Regions from separate parts of the Homo sapiens genome. Here regions 1 and 3 are each linked to region 2. The links come from fine-mapping of genetic effects on plasma protein levels. A gene starts in region 2. Each other region holds a variant in brackets. All regions are shown on one strand. Distances are from middle to middle.

Evidence for each region. PIP is the posterior inclusion probability: the model's chance that the variant is causal. The UK Biobank Pharma Proteomics Project read protein levels with antibody pairs (Olink). The fine-mapping took linkage between variants from a reference panel, not from the people measured, so its PIPs are less certain.
Region 1: its variant is fine-mapped to the plasma level of the RNASET2 protein (UK Biobank, PIP above 0.99).
Region 3: its variant is fine-mapped to the plasma level of the RNASET2 protein (UK Biobank, PIP 0.98). The variant lies in the coding sequence of RNASET2. If it changes the protein, the assay may bind it differently, which can mimic a change of level.

What each region holds. Positions count from the first base shown.
Region 1 is chr6:167,027,163-167,035,343 of GRCh38, reverse strand. CEP43 (centrosomal protein 43) reads right to left here. Exons shown (of 13, transcript NM_007045.4): 11 at 2,702-2,741; 12 at 1,373-1,469. Among named protein-coding and RNA genes, the nearest start is that of CEP43, 32 kb to the right of the region's middle. The variant A/G (reference allele first, on the strand shown) is at 4,914.
Region 2 is chr6:166,952,571-166,960,736 of GRCh38, reverse strand. It overlaps RNASET2 (ribonuclease T2), which reads left to right and starts at 4,187. Exons shown (of 9, transcript NM_003730.6): 1 at 4,187-4,640. The coding sequence starts at 4,555. RefSeq lists a cis regulatory region at 1,151-1,437, an enhancer at 2,118-2,237 and silencers at 3,202-3,251, 3,522-3,621, 3,662-4,421.
Region 3 is chr6:166,922,668-166,930,841 of GRCh38, reverse strand. It overlaps RNASET2 (ribonuclease T2), which reads left to right. Exons shown (of 9, transcript NM_003730.6): 9 at 1,051-8,174. The coding sequence ends at 1,254. Among named protein-coding and RNA genes, the nearest start is that of RPS6KA2-AS1, 23 kb to the right of the region's middle. The variant C/T (reference allele first, on the strand shown) is at 1,189.

The sequences.
Region 1 (8,181 bases), 75 kb before region 2:
GCAAAGAATACAAATGCTTTTGTGTTCCCCAGGTGCCCAGTAGCAATTCTCTACACAGAAGGCTTTAGAAAATGCTTCCTGATGAAGTACAGTGACTGTCAAAGTCCAATCTATGTAAATGGCAAAATTATCTAAATTTAAGCTTTTAAGTGAAAACTCCTAGGAACATTGATGTGCCAAACCCAGTGAGTAGGACCCAGTGAGAAGCAGTCTAACAAAGCCCAGACTCCTGGACGCCATCCAAGGCCCCCAATGGCAAAGGGATGCCACACCTCCTCTTCAACCCACGTCATTTCACAAATCCTAGTTTAACAGTCATTTCTTCGAGTCCTCTCCCTCATATTTAAAGAATCCTTCATAGTTTCTTTGGTATAACTTTAAAGCAACATTCTTCAGGCCTCTTTAGGATGATGCAGGGTGAAAAGAGAAAGCTAAATTTATAATTATAAGGGTATATAATACATCAGGAATTAGAGAAGTGCTTTATATATTATCATTTAACCTTCAAAATAATCCTATCACATAGGTATTAATACTTCCATCTTACAAGTAAAGAAACTGAGAGTCAAAGGTTAAAGCTTAAATAAGAAAATATATGAAAGAATAAGAATGCAAACACGGATGCTGCTGACTTAGATTGTGTGGTTGCATTGTAAACGCTACCTCTCTCAAAGGCCTTCTCCCTGTGTGACAATCACAGCGCTTGGAGAATCCCACCATGTTCTGGAAAGCAAGTCCCCACCCAGCCATGGCAACCTCCAACCTGACTGGTAGACTCCTCTGAGCTGGGGACAGCTTGAAGTGGGTACTGACAGGTGACCCTGCAATGCTACAGCTCACCATCGAAGGATCTTCTGTTCTCCACCCACATAAAAAGGTAAAGTTTGGATCTCAAATACGGACTCTAACTTTATGGCCTACTGTCTTGTCTCCTGTGGATTTTAGCCCAGTCTGGCTTGCCTGTTCAGATGTCACAACTGGCCAAGATGACCACACTCTCTGCACTCCAGGCTCAGCTTCCTCCTGTGATCACAGTACCCTATACTGACTTCCACCTATGGCACCAGGTGGTCAATTCTCACTAAGCCTGACCCACCCTGATCCCTCTTAATCCACAGCAATCCCAGTGCCCCAGGAATAATCCTCAGGCATTTCAGCAGCGAGACTTGCATACCAAAGGAAGTGACAACCAAAACCAATCTTACACATTCATCAAAGACATTCTTTATAAACTCGAGCCAGGTCTCTGTCATGACTTTTCATAATTTTCAACTGTTTTTCTACTAATTAGTATGAATTTTGAAGCTTTACAGTAAATCGACAAATAGGTTAAAAAAAAAAAGCACTCTATGGGAAATGCAGAACACCATACCTTATCACTGGTATTGATGTCATCTATTTCCACAGAAAGGTCTTCTTCTATCTCTTCACCAATACTTATCTCACTTTTCTCTGAGCGATGGCTGGTACTAATTTCAGAAGGGGAAAAAAAAATAAGAACTCTGAAAATAAACATTTAAAGAGATTACTATTCTTTAAACATTCAGATATTTCTTTTAATCCTTTAAGTAAAATATAATATTAACTATAATTAATTTCATACATATTGTCTTGCTTGACCCTTAAAATAATGTAGCAAGGGCAGCAGCAGTCAAGTCAATGTAACAGATGAGGAGACAAAGGTTCAAAGCAGTGACTTTGGTCACAATAGCAAGAAAGAAACAAACCCAGATTTTTACAATTTCATCTACTACATCATGCTCTTTCTCAAAAACTGTATAATAAATTATAAAAAAAAATACAGACTTCCAATTGGAAAGATAACCTGTCAATTAAATAAAATTCTCAGGCATCTAATTTAAAATTTCGAATCATATCCACAACAAATATTACTTCTACATTACATATTATCTTTCTGTGTATAAGAAAGGAATCGACAGGGCATGGTGGTTCTCGTCTGTAATCCCAGCACTTTGGGAGGCCCAGGTGGGTGGATCACGAGGTCAGGAGTTCGAGACCAGCCTGGCCAACACGACAAAACCCTGTCTCTACCAAAAATACAAAAATTAGCCAGGCGTAGTGGCACGCACCTATAATCCCAGCTACATGGGAAGCTGAGGCAGGAGAATGGCTTGAACCCGGGAGAAGGAGGTTGCAGTGAGCCCAGATCGCACCACTGCACTCCAGCGTGGGCAACAGAGTGAGACTCTGTCTCAAAAAAAAAAAAAAAAAAAAAAAAAAAAAGAGAATGGCAATCTTATTAGGGCAGACCACATATCCACATATTAGGAAATGTGATCTGAATCAAAAAACTAATTTGAGAGCATAATTATTTTAGGTCAATTTTGAGACAATTCCCGCCACAAAAAGGTATGGAAGGAAGAGAAAATCAGCACTTATGACACGGCAACTGAACTGCTTCTAAATGACTTCTCAGTTAATTCTTCAATTGTTTCTCTTCTTCTTACCAAGTTTCCTGAACATAATGTGACTGTCTATATTCTAATGTAAAATCAAAAACATGCTCTAAAATCAAATATTTAATTTTGGATTAACTATCTTTTCTTCATCTTCAATCAATATGAACAACAGAATCAAATACATTAAAATAAGCACCAAATGTAATTTTGTCTTGTCTGTGTTCGGAAATTGTTTACAAATAACGTATATATTTATATATTTGCCCAATAGTTTTTCTTACCTATTAAAATCATCAACATAGTCATCATCTTCTCCAGTTCCTGATAAGTTTAAGAAAAGATATGTTATATCTAATGTGCGTCACAATTTACCTACCATTAAACACACATTTCCTTAAAAAAAATTAATTATATTGCATCATTTAAAAAGTCCCAGACTAGAAATAACATTTTAAGCATATATAATATGAAGACAAATGACAAATGAAATACCTAAGAAATAATAAACTGTTACAAGTGACTATAAAATGTGGTTAACACCTCATCTTTACTCCGGGTACTCTAAGGCAATTAACATGGGGCACACTCACCATTAATAAGGTCCCTTGACTTAATGGCGTATAGCAATAGCAAGTCATCATCAATCCCCTCTAGGTACTAGATGAACTACTGAGCGTTTTCAACATGCTAATTGTTTTGTTATAAAAGTTAAAAAACACTCATGAGGTGTGAAGAGGCCATGAAGCACAGCAAATAAGGGCACCTTCAGTCAGACAGAGCCAGGCTCAGGCCTCAGACCTGCCACTCAACAGCTCTGTGACCTGGGAATGTGAGGTGCCCTTTCTGGGCCATGTCCTCTGCTCTGACGTACAGCCAAAGCCACACCAATCAGAGTTAACATAAGGATTCAGGTACATGATGTGCTTAACAGAGACCTTGGTCCACAGTAAGATCTTAATAAAAGGCAACTGAATGAAGGTGGGATGGTGAATAGTGAGGCAGTGTTACCAGTTTCTCAAAGTGCACCACAAGCCTCTGACAGAGGGGGCACCTTCAGATCAACTTAAGGCTATAAAGGACAAATTTGCAAATCAGCAGCCCTTCCCTCCCAGGACTTCTGAGGGCTAGATGAGGAAAAAGAGTTGTCAGCCTCAAAGCAGACTTGGAGGCACATGAGAGCCAACTTAAAATGTGAATGGATGGCCTATGAAAGACCCAGGAAGCATGTACAGCCACATGCAGAAGATGCAGATCACAAAAAGAAGACCTGGCATGACAGAGAGCCGTTCAAAGACCCTGCGGGCCTTGTCCTCGATCTTCCCTCAGATAAGGCTGGACTGTCTCTAAATCGGTCAGACTGCTGAGGGGATTCAAGCTCTGTCCAGACAGTTAGACAATGTAATTCTCTTACAGCCAAATCATATGATTAATTTATCAACCAGCTGAGTGATGACTAGGTCCCCTAGAGGTATAGCAATGACTAAGATGGTATCTCTGATCTCAGGGAGCAAACACTCTAGTGAAGAGGAACAGTGGAACAAACCAAATACTGCTAGTGCAATTGGGAAGAACTCCAAGGTAGCAACTGAGTGGAAACCTAGGTTGCAGAGGTACAAATTACTGGGGACAGTGTGTTCCAAGAGGAAACATGTGAAAGGCCCTGAGGTGGGGGAGGGTGCGGTGGTTTGAAAAACCACCAGTGCAGCCCAGAGCAGTGACGCACATCTGTAATCCAGCTACTTGGGAGGCCAAGGCAGGAGGATCACTTGCACCCAGGAGTTTGAGACCAGCCTGGGCAACATTGCAAGACCCCCTCAAAAATTAAAAATTTATTTTATTTTTTAAATTTTAATTTTTAAAATACTGTCTCAAAAAAAATGTAAAAACCACCAGTAAGGAAGCCATACAACCATAAAACAATGAATTTGGGGGACAGAATGGGTGGAGGAAGAAAAAAGGAGTGGCGATCAGAAGGGTTGGCAGAAGCCGGATCATTAGGGCTTGGTTGGTTGCAATAAGGATCTTAGCCTGAATACAAAGGGAAGCTTTGTACAAAGGGATGGGGTGGGGTGGGGGAAGACAGGAGTGAAAAAGTGCAGGGTAGCACTACCTCACTTCTGTTTTCCCAGAGATAATCGTACCACCGCCAGAAGAAATATGTGTACAGGAGGCAACAATGAAAGTAAGGAAAGCAGAAGGCTGTCAGAAAGTCCAGGCCAAAGAGAACAGGGGTAAAAGGCTTGGGTCAAGGCAGGTGTCCCACAGATAAGACAGACGGGTAGATGATATGGGGTGGGAAGAATATCAGCAAACGAAGAAAACATGAGTCCTTGTTCCTGCTACATCCAAACCTTGCCCAGTAATGAACTGGAAATCCCTGATCATAAGCAGTCAGGAGGGACATGTCAGGAGCTTCCTCTCCTCTTGAGAATCAAGAGCTCGTCTCCACTGTAGCCTCAAAGGTTAAAGGGCTGCAAGTGCTTGCCAGAAACC[A/G]GGCACTGTCAGGGCCGAGAAGGAGAAGTGGAAATCTGATTAAACAAACTACATATGTGGCTGGTTTGCAAGCGCTAAGTAAAACCAGGAGTGGCAGCTACTAAAATGTCAGCCTCCAAGGACCCATTGTAGTGTTCCTATGTGTGAAGGCCAGTGAGGAGAGCAGAGGTGGACACTGAGCTGAGACAGCGAGGACGGCTGTGGCTGCAATGTGGATTTAAAGAAAGCTAACTGGATTCCCCACCTGGCAGCATTTGTAGCCAATTCAAAACACAAGATTGTCAGGCCTCTGAGCCCAAGCTAAGCCATCATATCCCCAGTGTCCTGCACGTGTACATCCAGATGGCCTGAAGCAATTGAAGATCCACAAAAGAAGTGAAAATAGCCTTAACTGATGACATTCCACCATTGTGATTTGTTTCTGCCCTACCCTAACTGATCAATGTACTTTGTAATCTCCCCCACCCTTAAGAAGGTTCTTTATAATCTCCCCCATGCTTAAGAAGGTTCTTTGTAGTTCTCCCCACCCTTGAGAATGTACTTTGTAAGATCCAACCCCTTCCCTCAAAACATTGCTCTTAACTCCACCACCTATCCCAAAACCTGTAAGAACTAATGATAATCCACAACCCTTTGCTGACTCTCTTTTCGGACTCAGCCTGCCTGCACCCAGGTGAAATAAACAGCCATGTTGCTCACACAAAGACTGTTTGGTGGTCTCTTCAGACAGACACATGAGACAAAGATATTTACTGAATAATGTGCTATAACACATCAGATTCTGACTTCTTGGTTATGTATTGTTTAGTATTACAATAATTTAAGCCAGTGTCAAAATGATTAACAGAATACATACAGGTTAAGCATCCCAAATTCAAAAATTTGAAAACCAAACTTGAATAAAATCCAGAACTTTCTGAGTGGGGACGTAATGCTCAGAGAAACTGCTCATTGGAGCATTTCGGACTTTCAGATTTTCAGATTTGGGATGCTCATCTGGTAAGAAAAATGCAAACATTTCAAAATCCAAAAAAATCCAGACTCTGAAATACTTCTGGTCCCAAGCATTTGCATTAAGGGATACTCAACCTGTACTACATTACTTTAAGGGTCAGCAAATTTTGGCCCTCAGGCCAAGGATTCTTGTTTTCTTCATTTTTTGACAGTCTCTCCTCCCCATCCCATACCCTCTGTCTTATCTGCCCTTACCCCAGTCATCTTTGGCCCGGACTTCCTGACAGCCTTCTGCTTTCCTTACTTTCATTCTTGCCTCTGGCTGATGACCTGCTTTTGTTCAGCCTGTGAACTAAGAATGGCTTTTACATTTTTAAAGATTGTTAAAAAACAAAAAAACAAAAAAACACACAAAGACTATGTGAGAGACAGTACATGCCATCCACAAACCCTAAAATATAGACTATTTGGCCCTTTACGGAAAAAGCTTAGCAACTCTTGCTTTAAATATGCAAAGTACCTATCTATAAACACTCCTTTTGGGCACCTTTAATTAATATTTGTCTGCCAAACTAAAATAGATGGTGCTCTAAAGCTTTATTTGTAGATTATTTATTTGGAACTCAGAATTTATGTTCCCATTGAAATGATTATTTCAATATGTCTAAATAACATACAGGCAGTAAAACACAGTGGTGAGGGCTCTGTGTGATGCATCAGGACTCTAAAAGCAGCATGACCTTGGGCAAGTTACTTAACCTAGATTCTTCATCTGTAAAAATGGAGATAGTAATAAAACCTACCTCATAGGATATGAATTAAATAAAATAATTCCTTGGTACAGTGCCAGGCACTTACCACTAACATCATTATTCTCCTAGGCTGGTCCACTAACATCTGTCTACATATTACTCAAAATACCTAGAGTACTGTATATTTAAAATGTAAACAACCCAAACAGAAAACAACATTGTTGCAAAACGAAATAAAACTTTATTTCTACTGAATCCTAATGCCTAGCTAAATGACAAACATCCAGCTAGTGAACTGGTAGTTCTCACCTGCATAACTACCCCAATTCCAACCCGAGATATGCCTAAGTCCCAAGACAAAGTGAAGTGAAGGAGCACACCACCCTCCTGCCTGTACCCAGCAACTCTGCAGCCCCAGCAACGACATTCCCTCCTGAGGATGACAATTCTCGGCAGCTCCCCACTCAGAAACAGGAGGGAAAACCCTCGCTTTGGTAAGAGAATAGAGCAGTCAGAGAAAAAAGCTAAAAGGTTTGGCAACAGAGTGAAACACCACAAAAGTGAAAAAAACAGAACACAAAGGGGACAAGGCGGCCATCACGGTGCAGAGGTCAGGAGTAAAGTCTCTGGTGGCAGTTAGCCACTGAGATTTAGTGGAAAAGAACATCTAATGGCAACCATGACCACAGCTGACAGGAAAAGCACAAGGGAGGGAAAGGAGGCAGGCCCACCTAGCTGGCCAGCCAGCAACCAGGACGCACAAAGAGCAGATGGCAGCACAACCAGCAACTCAGTTACCAGGACTCCAGGGCACTGTGCGGAACAAGAATCCGGGCAGCTCAGGGAACATTTATTCTTCTGCAAATGGGGGGAAAAGTAACGTAAAAAGAAAACTAACATTTACTAGGCACCTACCATGCCAGCCACTGTACTTTAATTTACATATGAAGAGATATTTAAATCCTATTTACTCTTTAAAACAAGGCAGATGTTATTAGTTCCACTTAACAGATGAGGAAATAGCAGTTTAGTTTATCTCCCTACGCTACCCATCAATCAGTGCCACATCTGAGATGTCACTTCTATCCAACTCCAAGCCCAAGTTCTTTGCACTATCCAGAATGTCTCTCCAGAAGAGGGAAGGGCATTCTCGGAGCTGCCCCTTGGACAGGGCTGGGTTTTAAAAGCAAATGGGGACACACCTTTCTTTCTCCCTAACCTGCCTGTGAAGCTCTTCCAATGCTTCCATGTGAGTGATTACAGACCAGGAAGGGATCCCATCACATCCACAGAGAGCATAGGAAGTGGCCATTGAGAACCTGGCTGCACCGTTTCCTTCAGGTCACCAAGTTTGCCTTTACATAAATGAGTTTGCCTAAAGTATGCCTGTCACACTGCTACAGTCTTGCACAGAACAGAACACTGAATGAGAAATGTGCTCTCAACATATGGCCCAGGGCTCGGTAATGTTCACATCGACACTCTTACTTCCATAGGAATGAATGTACTTACATGGCAGGCTTACCAACTTCTGCTCCATAGAACAGAACTGAACACATCTC
Region 2 (8,166 bases):
AAAGAGTTCCACAAAATGTGTACCACAGTGGCCAGGCTGGCATGGCAAGGCCAGAGGTGCTGGGACACCCTGACCAACATGGTCAAACTCCGTCTCTACTAAAAACACAAAAATTAGCCGGACGTGGTGGCACACGCCTGTAATCCCAGCTACTCGGGAGGCTAGGGCAGGAGAATTGTTTGAGCCTGGGAGACGGAGGTTGCTGTGAGCCGAGATTGTGCCACTGACTGCACTCCAGCCTGGCTGACAGAGTGAGACTCTGTCTCAAAAAAAAAAAAAGAAAAAGAAAAAGAAGAGAAAGGGCAGGGAAACACCCAGCAGCTGGCCTCACTTTCTCAGCAAATAAGTAATTCAGGATGGAAAGGAGTTTTTAAGGTGAGATTCTTTCAAGTGTGACAAAGCTCTTTAGAGCATGAGAATCCTAAACTGTGTAGTTGTGCCACTGCTCTGCCATTGGAATGGCCAGCACCAGATATGGGCTGTTCCTACCGCCTGGGTTCCAGAGTGAAAAATACCGTGGACCACAGTGGCATCTGACGCATAGCCAGCATGGAATATGGGCAAATGAATGATAAATGATCAACTTCCGTTTAAGTGAGACACTGAGATTTGGGGGCGGTGTATTATTGTAGCATAACCCAGCAAAAGCTGGCATGGAAACAGGAAACCTGGAGCTAATGCCAAGAAGAGGTTGTGTGGTGAAAGTATCTTGGTCTCTTCAGAATTAACAAGGATTTAAGGATGTCTGTTCATAGACATGGCTGTTGCCATCCTGTCCCCCTCCCCTCTCCTAAGGACATGTTTCTATACAAGCCAGCAGCATCTTTTAAACCTCATAGTTTGTACCCTTTTACACTATGTTGTGTGAGTCAATGTAATTCCCACTCTGGCCCCTGCCCACCTGCTTGATGCTGGAGCCCTCTTTGTTTTCGTAAAGCTGGGCGGCTTCCAGACCCAAATCCAGCCTTTACAGCCACTGCCTCTTCCCTACGTAGGGTTCCGTTTAGGATCCTGGTAGGTGGACAAGTAGTGAACAAGACAGATGACAGATGCTCCAGGTTCACATCCAAGTTTTGGGGGGTTGAGAGCTTTTCCATTTGGATGTCCTTCTTTAAGAACAAGAAGGTAAAATTGTGAATACGGAATGAGATATGGGGTCTTGGTGGGGCCCATGCCAGCAAGGGGCCTGAAGCTCCTCATTAGCTTCCGATGTGGGGGTGGGGGAGTAGAAGTGGGCAGTACAGGAGGAAGTGACAAGAATTCTCAGGGGTGGGGAGAACTGTGTCGAAAATAAACAAGGAAGTGCAACAGGAAATGACTGGGTGGCTTCTTCAGGCTGGGTAGGACGCTGCTGAATTTATCTGATAAAAATCTCCTCTCTGTGAGTTGTGGAAAGTGGCTTGCTGCGAGAGACCCCCTTCTTCCCCACATAACATAGGTAAGAGTGATAGAAGTGATGCAGCTGGGCGCTGTCTCCAAAAAAAAAAAAAAAAAAAGGAAAAGTGACGGATGCTCCCCTCACTCCACCCCCTACCCATTACCTAGGACAAAGCCAGACACAGATCCTCCAATTCCCATTCTTCACCTCATCAATGATGAGCCAGTCAATAGAAATAACACACTTGTTAAGCAAACTTGGTGAGGCTCCTCTCTTCCCCCGAGGCTGAGGACTTTTGGCCTCATCTTAGCCTGAGTCAGTCCCCCCTGAGAACAGGCTGGCCACGGGGTCAACCTTCTCTGATCTAATGTCCTATGAAGGCAGGTTCTCATCCCACTTCTCCATTCCCAGTTCATTCTTTCTCTCTCTTTCTTTTTCTCTCTTTCTTCTTTCTTTCATTCATTCTTTTTGTTGTTGTTGTTGACCGAGTCTCACTCTGTCGCCCAGGCTGGAGTGCAGTGGCGCGATCTCGGCTCACTGCAACCTCTGCCTCCTGGGTTCAAGCGATTCTCCTGCCTCAGCCTCCAGAGTAGCTGGGATTGAGGGAAGAGAGAGACCCTCTCATATTGTTTTATATTGTTTTATACTCAGTACCTGTTTTAAGAAAAAAACAAGGAAGTGAAATCAAAGACAGGCAGCCCGGCGCCAGGCCCAAAACCGGACCTGGGCCTGCCTGGCCTAAACCTAGTAGTTAAAAATCAACTCATGACTTAGAGACCGATGTTATTCATAGATTCCAGACATTGTATAGAAGAACATTGTGAAACTCCCTGCCCTGTTCTGTTTCTCTCTGACCACCAGTGCATGCAGCCCGTCACGTACCCCTTGCTTGCTCAAATCAATCACGACCCTTTCATGTGAAATCTTTAATGTTGTGAGCCCTTAAAAGGGACAGAAATTGTGCATTCGGGGAGCTCGGATTTTAAGGCAGTAGCTTGCCGATGCTCCCAGCTGAATAAAGCCCTTCCTTCTATAGCTCGGTGTCTGAGAGGTTTTGTCTGCCGCTCCTCCTGCCACAGGATTACAGTCGCGTGCCACCCCCGCCCAGCAAATTTTTGTATTTTTAGTAGGGACAAAAGGCCCCCAGGCCCCTGCAATAATGGTCCTCATAACACCACTCCTCCCCGAGTCCAGATTTGCTTTATATTTGGCAGTGGTCACAACAGCCCTCCTTGACAAGGGGCTGTTTAAACACACCGGACTGTGATTTAAAGGAAAATGAGGATTCTGGGAAGCACTTTTGTTTTAAGAAAATTATTTTTTTAGCTTAAAAGAAAAGAGAAAAAGAACTGTGGCGTGTGCCTATATTCTTGAGAGGAAGGAATGAAAGGAGCCGGAAAGAAACAAATAAGTCGTTAGGGAAAAGGAGAACGAGAATAACACCATGACCTGTAGGAGGTCCTGGAGGAGCTAAGGAGGTGTCAGCCATTTTCCCCCCCCATCTGTTCCACAGGTGGCATTTTATTGAGCACCGACTGTCCCCCATCCACTGTGCTCAGTGGCAGGGACTCAAGGTGGGCAAAATAGACATGGGCCTTGCCTTGCAGTCTAGTGGGAAAAACAGATTAATCATTTAAATATTTTGTTTCAAAGAATGGTAATGCATGCAGGCAAGGTCCAGGCCTGTGGGAGAGCAGGCTACAGGCCCACCTGCTATTTAGACAGTTACCAGTGGCAGAGGACCCCGAGGAAGGCGCAGTTTACTCGACGTGTAAATAGGAATAGCCTTAACTAGCTGTGGGTGTGCGGACAGGGAAGGGAAAGAGGAGAAACATCTGCAGAGACAATGCCGGGTGCACAGCCCGTGGGCGGGGCCGCGGGTGCAGGGGAACCCGTGCCTCTGAAGGGCTGGGAAGGCCAGGGTGTTGGGGGAGGAGACCGGGCCTATGGGACTGGCCCTGGCTACGCCAAGGTGGGGCTGACATGAAGTCCCCTTCATCCGTGGGGGGTGGCCCGTCCCTCTGGGAGGGGATCCCTCACAAGATGACTTCCCAGGTCGCGCCCCGAGGCGGCTCTTTGCTGCCCCCACAGAGATGACTTCCGGGCTCCTGGGGCCCGCGGGGAGGGGCAGGTGAGGCCCAGGGCTGGGTGAGGGCCAGGCCCTTCTAGGAATGTTGGTGCTCCCAGCACCTAGCACCGGGAGACTGGAGAGGTTTCCAGGAGAGTGACCCGAGTAGGTCCCCTCCTAATTCTGGAGCCGTCCCTCGGGCTGCGCAGTGGAGCGCCGAGGTGGCGGGAGGCTGCGGGGAGCCTGGGCGGCCAAGCACCATCTGCAGTCAGGAGCTCCCGGGCAGCTTGCAGGGCGCAGTTTTTGAAAGCGGGTGCTGCGTGCGGACCGCGGGCCTGCAGGGTGCGCGGGTCGGGCTGGGGGCTGTCCCTGGAGAGTAGAGTGGCCCTGGGGCCCGCACGCCCACTTGCTGGCGGGGGATGGCGCAGACACGGGCGGTCCCCCCGAGGGCGGTCCTCACGGGTGGTCTAGGTTAGCTCGGACCCGGGAGTGTGGGAGTGGCGCAGAGCTGCGGGAAAAGGCGCGGGGCGCCTGCGTGGCGAAGGAACACAGCCGCCTGACACGCCCTCAAGGCCCGCGGAGCTGCTCCTGCCTCGGCCTCTCTGAGCCAACCACGGGGCGGGGCGTGAACGCCGGGCGGGGACGTGCCGTTCTGGGGGGCGTGTCCACCGGCGGGGGCGTGCCGTCCTGGGGGCGTGGCTCTCTGCTCCGGTGCAGGCCCGCAGGGCGCCCTGGGCTGGGAGCAACGCGACTGACCGTGGTCGTGGGCGGACGGCGGCTGCAGCGTGGAGGAGCTGGGGTCGCTGTGGGTCGCGAAGCAGAGCCCGGGACGTGCGCGCTTGGTGCACGATCCTGAAGGGGAGCTCCGAGGGGCCCGGGTCGCCAGGGCTGCTGCGGCCATTCCCGGAGCCCGGCGCGGGGCCCGCGAGATACTGGTTTAGGCCGTCCCAGGGCTCCGGGCGCACCCGGTGGCCGCTGCTGCAGCGGAGGGAGCGCGGCGGCGCGGGGGCTCGGAGACAGCGTTTCTCCCGGAAGTCTTCCTCGGGCAGCAGGTGGGAAGTGGGAGCCGGAGCGGCAGCTGGCAGCGTTCTCTCCGCAGGTCGGCACCATGCGCCCTGCAGCCCTGCGCGGGGCCCTGCTGGGCTGCCTCTGCCTGGCGTTGCTTTGCCTGGGCGGTGCGGACAAGCGCCTGCGGTGAGTTACCTTGCGAGGTAAAGTGGGGAGCGTGGGAGCCGGGCCCTAGAGCTTTCCACTGGGTGAAGGCTGCAGCTCTCGGGGTCGGCGGTCGCTGAGCCCCGGGCAGCGACTGGGGAGGGCGGGGGGAGCCGAGCACGCTCCGGGGTGACCCCTGGGAAGAAGTTGGGAAGTTGAGCACGCCTCGGGGTGACCCCTGGAGGGAGTGGGTTGGGGGGAGCCCTTAGCACACTCAGAAGTGACCTCTGGGAAGGAGTGCGATGAGGGGAGTCCTGAGCACGCCCCGGGGTGACCTCTGGGAAGGAGTGGGTTGGGGGGAGCCCTGGGCACGCTCTGGGGTGACTCCTGGGAAGAAGTGGGTTGGGGAGCCCTGAACACTCCCCGGGGTGACCCCTGGGAAGGAGTAGGGGGTAGGGTGAGGTCCTGGGTACACTCCAGCCTGGAGCTGGACTGGAAACTCATCCCACAGACTGCTCCCAGCCTAGGACGCGACAAAGCAGGTGGCAGGCTTGGTGGAGCACTGTTCCTGCACTCGAAGTTCTCTCAGAGGTCGAAGAAGTCGTGGAGGGGACACTTAATTTCAGCTTTCACTGCGGCGGGTGGTGAAACGACGGTTCTTCCTCTTTTTGAGTATCCTGTTCTGAATCCCTTCCCTTGGCTCGCCCTCCGCGTGTGTGTGTGTGTGCGCGTGTGTGTGTGCGCGTGTGTGTGTGTGCGTGTGCGTTTGTGTGTGCGTGTGTGTGTGCGTGCGTGTGCGTGTGCGTGCGTGCGTGTGTGTGCGTGTGTGTCGTGTGTGCGCGTCTGTGCGTGTGTGTCGTGTGTGCGCGTGTGTGTGTGTGCGTGTGTGCGTGTGTGTGCGTGCGTGCGTGTGTGCGCGTGTGTGCGTGCGTGTGTGCGTGCGTGTGTGCGTGTGTGTGTGTGGCAGCCGCCCAAATTAATTAGGGGTAAACAGGCGGTGCTGCAAAGAACTCCAACTTTAATTCTGTGGAAGATACCAATATTTGAATACCATATTATTTCTTTCTATTTGGGTAATGATCGGGTTAATAGGATTTCTTACTTACATAGTAGGTGTGGAAAAGGTGGGTTTTACTTATTTATTTTTTTTTAGACAGTCTTACTCTGTCACTCAGGCTGGAGTACAGTGGCGTGACCTCAGCTCACTGCAACCTCCACCTCCCGGGTTCAAGCGATTCTCCTGCCTCAGCCTCTGAGTAGGTGGGATTACAGATGCACACCACCACGCCTGGCTAATTTTTGTATTTTTAATAGCCAGGCTGGTCTCGAACTTCTGACCTCAGGTGATCCGCCCGCCTCGGCCTCCCAAAGTGCTGGGATTACAGGCGTGAGCCACTGCACCCGGCCAGGGTTTTACTTTTTAAACACCTTAGGTATATATTTTTAATCATGTACATTAAAATGTAGCATTATATTTCAGTGTTCCGGAAAGTGTATTTTCTGAAAAAGAGCTACATTTATGTCCTTATTTATTGGCCATGAGGTTCAGAGCCTCTCACTGGGGAAGTCTGTGGCATGCTGGCCCTTGCTGGCTGAGTGGAAACTGCTAGTTCACACCCAGGTGTGGGACCTTTGAGCTCTCTATGCCCCAGTTTCCTCATCTGTAAAGTAGAAATAGTAACAGTCAGCCTCACAGAGTTGGCTTCAGGAGAAATCAGTTAAGGTACAGAATGTAACTTGGAATGATGTCTGGCTGGAAGTAAACATTAGCATAAAACAGGCTGTCATATGTGGATCCCCCACCCCAGCCCATAATTCATGCAACTGATATGATCGGACAAACTTGAGCAGGCAAGATTTGCGAGAACATGGTTGATTCAGACCACGAGGGCTTCATAGGTCAGCGGGCATTTTCCCAAGTTCTAACTGGTTTTGAGACCTTGGTGATTTTTCTTTCTTCTTTGACTTTCTTTAGCTTCTCCATTACTTTCTCCGTGAATAGGGGAGGGGGGCATCTGTGTGGGAGGGGGTCTCCTGCAGTCACATCACTCTGCCTGGTTTTAGATGGAGAGTTTGTTACAAACGTCTGAGTCTTGGTAGTTTTGTTGTAAGCATATTGATAGTCTCATCTTCCTGGGTGTTGCTAAGCTTTCCAGCCTCAGGTTCCGACTATGTAAAATAAGGTTTTTCACCCAAGGGTAAAAAATGCTTTACCAGCTCCAATTCTCACCCTGCAGCTCATCCTTTTTTTTTTTTTTTGAGACAGGGTCTGGCTGTGTAGCCCAGGTTGGAGTGCAGTGATGTGATCTGGGCTCACTGCATCTTCCACCTCCTGGGCTTAAGCTATCCTCTTGCCTCAGCGCCTTCCAAGTAGCTGGGACTACAGGTTCATGCCACCACACCTGGCTAATTTTTGTAGAGACAGGGTTTCACCATGTTGCCCAGGCTGGTCTTGAACTCCTGAGCTCAAGCAATCCTCCTGCCTCTGCCTCCCAAAGTGCTGGGATTATAGGTGTGAGCCACCACGCTTGAACCCTTTTTTCCTTTTATACTGAGAGCTTGCATAATTAGTTCCAATGTACAACTAAGTTTTCATACCATCTTAACTGTAAATTCTATACAAATTCAACAGGACTCAATTATTTACAAAAGCTAATGTGTGACAACTTGATCTTCTTACTTGGAATCTTCCCTTCTAAAATTTGATTTATCCTGAAGTGTCTGCTTGACTTATATCCTGTGTTGCTGCTGGCTTTTTCCATGTGCATTTTTTGCAAGCTGCTCTTTTTACTTCAGTCTCGTTAAGTCTTGCAGTTCTGGCTAGAGGCCTACTGCCATGAATAAGCTGCCGCTCCACAGTGGCTTCTTTGAAGTCTTAGAGTCAGATGAGTTTCACGGTGTTCAGGTTTGTGATCCAGTGTGGCCCCAGGTTCTGGGTAACACGTGTGATGCAGTGCTGTGTGCATACCATGTCGTGAATAACATTCATGATGCAGTGCACATACCGTGTTCAAGTTAACAGTCCTGGTGGCATCTGAAGTAGCACCCTAAAATCAAATGACACAAATTCTGCAGAGAAGCAAGTGAAGTCTAAAAACTGAGTTGGGGTAGTAACGATAAATAGCGTTATGCTAGTTCAGGTTATGTTTTGTTGCCAAATGAATTACAAAAAACTACCAGGTTTCAGGCTTTTATGGGTTTCACGAATGCAGGGGAGGGATCGTGGGTCTGCATTTCTCTTGAGCATCCTTAGGAGAAAGGTGCTTCGTGGCTCAGTGGCTTCCCTTCAGTGAGGCCCTCCCTGGCTGCACTCCTAGCTTGCCCTGCCTCCGCTTCCCCTCCTCTCCCCTCCTCCCCTTATCCTATTCATGTTCTCCGCCACTCAGCACTGGACGCCACCACACGTGCCTTCTTAGTGTAGGGGTGTACCGCCTTCCTCACGGGAGTGTGTGCAGCAGCAGGGCAGGCAGTGTTCCTCCTCCCACAGCACTCAGTGCTGAATGAATGATTGAAGGGATGGATGGGTGGATGAATTTTTTCTGTAACTTTAAAAAAAGTTCTTGAAAAA
Region 3 (8,174 bases), 30 kb after region 2:
TGCATGTGGGCATGTGCTATGTGTGCATGTGTGTGTACATGCATGTGGGCATGTGCTATGTGTGCATGTGTGTGCATGTCCTGTGTGTGCATGTGTGTACATTATGTGGGCATGTGCTGTGTGTGCATGTACATGCATGTGTGCATGTGCTGTATGCGCATGAGTATACATGTGCGCATGTGCTGTGTGTGCAAGTGTGTACATTATGTGGGCATGTGCTGTGTGTGCATGTACATGCATGTGTGCATGTGCTGTGTGTGTGCATGTGTGTGCATGTTCTCTGTGTGAACATGCATGTGGGCATGTGTGTGCATGTGTGAATGTGTGCATGCATGTGAACGTGCTGTGTGGGCATGTGCGTGTGTGTGTGTGTGTACATGCATGTGGGTATGTGCTGTGTGTGTGCATGGGCCTGTGCCTCTGTGTGAATGTGCATATGAACATGTTCATGTACTGTGTGTATGTGTGCACATATGGGCATGTTCTGCATGTGTGCACAGGCCTGCACATCTGTGTATGTGAGCATGCATGTGTGTCTGTGTGAGCATGTGCTGTGTGTGAGCAAGCATGGTTTCTTGACAGCATGCTAGGACAGGGTTTGTCTTCTTGCTTATCTTTAACAAGAATATACCTGTTCTTTTAGCAATAGGGTACTGTTGCCCTTTTGGCCTACAAAAGCCATTTCTTCTCCTAATATCTTGATAGATATGTTGAGTGCTGTTGTATCTGTGTGTAACTTTGTTAATTTTCTCTAACATAAAAGCAGAGGCTTTTCACCAGGGCACCAGGCTGGCCTCTGGTGGTGACCAGGGGATCCAACCCCCAAGCCCAGCTCCACTGCCCACAGGCGAGTCACCTGGGGCCACTCCTTCCAATTTAGTGCACAGCAGCCTTCTGCTCAATGAAGGGGTCCGTTCTTGGAACCTAGAACCTGTGGTGTGGAGCCTCTGCTTTTGTTATCTTCTAAAAGTTCTAAAAGTTCATGATCTTAAGACCTTGATGATAATCCAAGATCTGAATTCTAAAGCGTCTTTCATTGTTTACTTTTAGGATGAGGAAGTACAGACAATTGGTCAGATAGAACTGTGCCTCACTAAGCAAGACCAGCAGCTGCAAAACTGCACCGAGCCGGGGGAGCAGCCGTCCCCCAAGCAGGAAGTCTGGCTGGCAAATGGGGCCGCCGAGAGC[C/T]GGGGTCTGAGAGTCTGTGAAGATGGCCCAGTCTTCTATCCCCCACCTAAAAAGACCAAGCATTGATGCCCAAGTTTTGGAAATATTCTGTTTTAAAAAGCAAGAGAAATTCACAAACTGCAGCTTTCTAAAAAACAACTCCAAAGTGAAGTCTGTTTATTTTGCTGTTTCCCCTCCATGCCTGTGAATTGGATGTTGTGGTCCCTGTAGAGTGAGTGCATGTGGCGTACACGGGGAGAAAGGAGCTCTCCCACGCCTGAGTGGCTGTTTTGTGCTTGGGATAAAGCTCACAGATTGTTTTTTTTTTTCTCTATTAAACTCTTCAGTGCCCTGGTAGATCAGGCAGGCATACTTGGAATTTAGACAGATGGCACCGATTCAGGGGACTCTCTTGCTCGAGTTTTCCCCTCGGAGCCTGTTGCCTTCTTGGCGCAGGGACCCTGTCAAGACGAAGAGCTCCACGCATGGCAGGAGCCCACGCTGATGCCTGGTGGGCCTGGGGGGTGTCTCTAGCTCAGACTGGGTCTGTTCCATGTGACCAGAGCCCCAGGACATCGTTCCTTAGCCAGCTGCTCCGTTGTTGGAGGCCTGGTGTGGTCACAGGTGTGTCCTAGAACGGTGACTTTGCCCCTCCTGCCCTAGGAGATTTGGGTGTATTCACAGAGCAGCCATCTCCTGTCTCCGTCAGAGCAGTCTCTTCCAGGTTACTGGAAGGTCAGTTTCTGTCAGGCCTCACTTCCTTCTTATCAGAGGGTAGCCAGGTCCCTGCACTGGTATCTATTTAGAAATGTACATGGAGCCCCCAGCGAAATGTGCCTACATTGTGTGTTCCAGAACCGGAGGTACCCTTACCTTCTAGATATGTGATGACATGGCTCTCACGTCAGGCAGACTGCTGCACCCACGCTCTCGGCCTGCCGTGCAGGGATTTCACTCGTGGAGTGAGGCATCTGGGGGCTGTGCAGTGAGGAGCTTTCCATGTGTTGTTAAGACAACCTGTTAGCATTGTCTTCTCCCGCGTCTCCTGGCCTCTTCTCTCTTTAAATCCTTTTCTCTGTTTGTCTTAATCACATTAACGTCCTATTTATGTTTTATTCAATATACATTTAAAATAGAACTTACTATGTGCCAGGCATTGTGTTCAACACGTGAAATATTTAATCCTTAGAATAACCATATTGTCAGCATAATTTACAAAAAAAAAAAAAACAGCTGTATCAATGCCTGTGAATATTCGGCTTTACTCGCCCATTTAAAGAAGAGATTTTCAAATTGGCTCAAACCAAAACCTCACTTCATGGTGTCTACAAGACAGTCTGAAATGCAGAATGTTCAGAGAGAGACAAAGGTTTACCAGGCAGATGGGACGGTGAGAAAGTAGGTGTCGCAGTCCTGATCCTAGACTCAGTGGCCTCTGCGTCCCCCGCAGGCATTAAAGGAGACACAGGACGGCCTCTGGCCCTCTGGAAACAAGCTCTGCAGTAAGAGCCTGAGACAGGCAGCACCCAGCCAGGCCTGACAGCTTCTGCAGACAGACAGAGTGAGATGATGGGGGATTTGATGGAAGCAGTCCCTGTATTTTGTCTCTTCTGTAATGGAGGAGCTGAGCCCTCTTCTGCAAGCTGTGGGGAAGGCTAGCGGAGCCCAAGGGTCCAGGGTCCCCACCTTGTCATTGTCCCTCGGCCCTTCTCTGAGCTCATTTCTGTCTCCAGTGTTTTTCTGTTGGCTTGGCAGGGCAGGATTTGTTTCTGTCGGGAACTGATGATTTGTGTTTTGATGCCTGTGAGAGGGACAAGATCTGATTTGTTTTGCACCTGGAAGGGCGTGATTTCCTGCATTTGCTCTGCGTCCTCAGGGAGTGGGTGTACTTTAGAGTTGGACTCTTAAGCCTCAGAGTCCTTTAAATGATGTCAATTCTTTTTTTTTTTTTTTTTTTTTTTGAGTCATTTTGCGAACACAGGGATCAAGGCTTGGGTTTTATCTTCATTATTCCCAGAGGAGCTGGTGAATTTGAACAGACTTCCTATTCAAATTGCATTTATTTTATAGCCTTGGGGGGTCAAGGAAAGCAGCTCTTCAGAGGCTGTCTGCAGTCGGCTGGCCTTTGCGGTTTTTAAAGAAGCCATTCTTTTTTTTAAGTAGCGTGTATTTATTATATGAGTGTGAGCATTTGAGAGCGGATGGGGACGCCAACAAGGTAGCATCCTGGTGGGAGGCATGGGCTGCGGAGTGCTGGTTTCCTGCCATTGTCACGTCAGCTAAATGGAAGAAGGCACTGGTGAGGGGCTGGATGGTTCAAAACATGAGCACAAGCAAATGCTTGGCTCTCTTAATATTCCTATTTTGGCCTAGAGCTCAGGAGCAGGTAGAACATGAGCGTTTGATAACCTGCCTCAGATCATGTAAGTATAAGGCACTTATGAGCCGCAGGAGACAGAAGGGGAAGACTCTGCGTTTAAGGTTCAGTGATGGAGATCAGATCCAAGCACATGTTTTTACATCATTAAACAAGTAGGTCGTGCATTTTCCAGATTCAACTCAGGAAGATGCAACTCTGACCACACGGTTCTCGCTGTAACTGGGCGGAGGTGACTGAGAAATGCCTCCCATGTGAGCGGGGTCTCAGGCTCGTATGTGTGGAAGGAGGAGCAGGCCAGGCTCTGGGATCAGAGCTGGGGGTACAAGTGTCTCCCAGGGGGACAAAGGAGCAGGCGCATCTCAGGATGGAGAGCAGCCAGGAGGGGCAGCTGGCCCGGGTCTCAGCCAGAGCAGGCGTCTGCCTGGAGCATCTCTGCGGCACCATGGAAAAGAGGACCCGTGGACTAGGCCACAGGGATGAGTGGAACTTATGGTGGAAAAAGACACCATAGGTAAAAGCGAGACAAGAAAACCAGGTTCCCATGAAACTCCTTCAGACCAGCCCCTTCTCAGCAGGGCTATTGCTGTACCCAAGAGCATTTCTCTTGGCCTGGGAGGGGACAATGCTTTGTCACCTGGAAAGCAATCCCTCTCTCCAAGCTAGTAGTGGGAGATCATTATGCGCTTGAATAACTAACAGTAGCAATTGTATCATATTCAGAACTAGATATCTTTTCTTTTCTTTTCTTTTTTTTTTTTTTTGAGACTGAGTCTCACTCTGTCGCCCAGGCTGGAGTGCAGTGGTGCGATCTCGGCTCACTGCAACCTCTGTCTCCTGGGTTCAAGCAATTCTTCTGCCTCAGCCTCCCGAGTAGCTGGGACTAGGCACGCCACCATGCCCGGCTATTTTTTGTATTTTTAGTAGAGTTGGGGTTTCACTGTGTTGGCCAGGCTGGTCTGGAACTCCTGACCTCAGGTGATCTGCCTGCCTCAGCCTCCCAGAGTGCTAGGATTATAGGTGTGAGCCACCGCGCCTGGCCCAGGTATCTTATCTTTCCACCGAAACTTTTGCCTCCATCTCGGTGAATGACATCACCATCCGCTTATTCCAGGTAGAAACCTCAAAGTGAACTGGAAACTTTTTAAAAAAATTTTGCCTAAATTGTGAAAGTATTCTGAATTATATTCAGCTTATCCTTCTCATTACTGACTTAGTTCAAGCCTCAGTCTCCCATCTGGGCCATGCATTGACTGCCACGCCACCTGACTGTCAGTGCTGGACGCTGGCACCGTGTTTGTGCCACTCTCCGTAACCAACCATGGCTCTCTGCTCCCAGATCACACCTCCCCAGTATGGCGGCTCAGGGACATTCCCTCAATCCCTCCTGCCCTGTTGGCAGTGCCTCCACCCACTCCCCACAGCCCATGAGGGCTCTGCTTAGCACTTCCTTGTGCCTGGATTCTCCGCGCAGTTTGGGTGGCCTGGAGTGCTCTTCTGCTCACCTAGTTTAGCAAGTTCCATGGGATATCAACACCCAGTTCCATGGTTGGCCGTTAAGAGTTCTTTTGCAGTCCTGGGTGGCTCTGCGCCTCCACGCCCAGGGACCAGGGCCTCTTCTCTTCCAGCTCTTGTTGTGTTACATAGAAGATGCCAGCTGGATGGCACAGGGGAGGGCCGTACAGTGTAGATGCGGACAATGTGGCATAGGTGAGGACTGGACAGCAGAGACAGTGGCTGCATGATGGAGGTGAGGGCTGGACGGGGGAGGCAAGGGCTGGACCGGGGAGGTGAGGGCTGGACAGGGGAGGTGAGGGCTGGGCAGTATAGATGAGGCCTGGGTGGCAGAGGTGAGGGCTGTGCAGTGTAGGTGAGGACGGGCTGGACAGGGGAGGTGAGGGCTAGGCAGTGTAGATGAGGCCTGGGTGGCAGGAATGATGCCTGGATGGAGGAAGTGAGAGCTGGGTGGCTTGAGTGAGGGCTAGATGGCATGGGTGAGGGCTAAGTGGCATAGATGAGGCCTGGGCAGCGGAGACATGGACTGCGCATCGTAGGTGTCGGCTGGACAGCAAGGGTGATGCCTGGACAGCAGAGGTGAGGGCTGGGCGGCAGGAGTGAGGGCTGGGCGGCAGGAGTGAGGGCTGGATGGCGTAGATGAGGCCTGGGCAGCAGAGGTGAGGGCTGTGCTGTTCCGGTTTTGGGCTAGACGGCAGGGAGAATGCCTAGATGACTGGGTAGAGGCCTGGGTGGGAGAAGTGAGGTCTGGACACTGTGGGTGAGGGCTGGATGGCGTAGATGAGGCCTGCGCGGTGGAGGTGAGGCCTGTACTTCTCCTGCCACTAAATCAAGAGCTGTTTATTGATTCATTCCACACTTTTTTCAACCCTTCCTATGAGCCGCCTCTCTTCTAGGCACTGGGACATGGCCATAAGCAGGGATCTTTTCCTCTTGGGCCCACTCCAAGAGTGGTGGCATATGCCACCATGCCCGGCTAATTTTGTATTTTTAGTAGAGATGGGTTTTCTCCATGTTGGTCACGCTGGTCTCAAACTCCCGACCTCGGGTGATCCACCTGCCTCAGCCTCCCAAAGTGCAGGGCAACAGACGGCAAGGGAAAAGAGGAGCATAGCTGGTGCATTTGATGCTGGTAGGTTGGAGGGAGGGAGGAGGTCAGAGTTATGAAGGCGGCCAGGGAAGGCTTCCTCGGAACCTGAAGAAAGGGAGACAGCAACTGCAGGGAAGGATCTGTGGGCCCTAATGGCCACGTCACACTACAAAGGCCCGGACTTTGTCCAACTCGCTTCTGTGCTCCATGAGTGCACCTGTGTCTGAGGCACATCAGCTCTAAGCCAGTGTTCTCTAGTGATGGAGTGAATAAATGAATAAAATAGAAAAGAGAGGCCGGGCGTGGTGGCTCATGCCTGTAATACCAGCACTTTGGGAGGCCAAGGCAGGCGGATCCCAAGGTCAGGAGTTCGAGACCAGCCTGGACAGTATGGTGAAACTCCATCTCTACTAAAAATACAAAAATTGGCCGGGCATGGTGGCGGGCACCTGTAGTCCCAGCTACTCGGGAGGCTGAGGCAGGAGAATGAATCACTTGAAGCCAGGAGGCAGAGGTTGCAGTGAGCCGAAATCACACCATTGCACTCCAGTCTGGATGACAGAGCAAGACTCCGTTTCAAAAAAAGAAAAAAAGAGAATGCAGCACTGGTCCCAGTGGAAGGTGCCTGCTGTTGGCTTCTCACCACGCCCAGATGAGGAAACATGCAGATCGCCTGTTTTCACTTTTTGTTTCTGCGAACTTTGGATCAGGAATAAAAATAATTTAATGCAGGTCCTAAGGCAGCTGAGAATTGTAATGTAAAATATTTTCAGAATTCAACTATATTGGCTAGATCTATCACTGCAGAAGGCTGGAAAAGACTCAGAAGTTAAAATACTACTTTTCCTCACAAGCTCTAGCTCCTGAAATGAAATTACCAGGATACAATCACAGATATGAAGTCAGTATTTGGGCGTCTATAGAAAAGAAGTCCATTGCATTGCTTATGGGATGAGCTACGTTTCCCATAGAAGGGGCAGTAGTGAGGGTTTTCTTATCTGAAGCAAAATCTCTGACAGATGATGAGAAATGCAGTTTTATGTCATTTTTTTTCTGATAAGAATTCTATTTTTTTTTTCTGAGTGACTGTAATGGGCCTTCCATTTATTTTAGACAAAAAAGACAGAATTAGCATTTTAGGCTCAGATGATAGTTATTAGAAAGTTTGAGATGGGCCAGGCGCAGTGGCTTATACCTGTAATCCTAGCACCTTGGGAGGCCGAGGTGGGCGGATCACTTGAGGTCAAGCGTTCAAGACCACCCTGGCCAACAGGACGAAACCCTATCTCTACTAAAAATACATTAGCTGGGTGTGGTGGCGGGTGTCTGCAATCCCAGCTACTCAGGAGGCTGAGGTGAGAGGATGGCTTGAACCCAGGAGGTGGAGGCTGCAGTGAGCCGAGACTGTACTCAAGCTTGGGCAACAGAGTAAGACTCTGTCTCAAAAAAAAAAAAAAAAAAAAAGGCCGGGCCTGGTGGCTCACGCCTGTAATCCCAGCCCTCTGGGAGGCTGGAGGTTGCAGTGAGTGGAGATTGCGCCACTGCGCTCCACCCTCCAGCCTGGGCAACAGAGTGAGACTCCATCTCCAAAAGAAAGTTTGAGATGGATAAAGTTAAGATCCATTAAATGCTGTATGGACTTTATGCTGACGTGCTTTTCACATTTCAGACCTGTGCATTCTTATGCATTTACATTCCCTTTATTTGAGGGAGCAAGAATTACACAATCACCTTTTCCTACCCGCTTTTAACACTGAGAAAAGTCTGCAGAGTGACAGTGGCCCATTTTTACCAGCAAAGACATTGAACCTGGCGTGTACAGCTTTGGTGGTTGGTACCTGTCACCATCTGCTCTTCTGTCTTGATGACCATATGTCTTGGACTGCACCCTGAGATGTGGGCTGCTCGTGCTGCCCCAGTACTGAACACAGCTACTTGAGCATAGTAGGTGTTTTGAAAATATTTAACCTGAATTGAGAAAAGATAGTCAGCAGTGGCCCAAAGATAACAACATACATCAAAAGT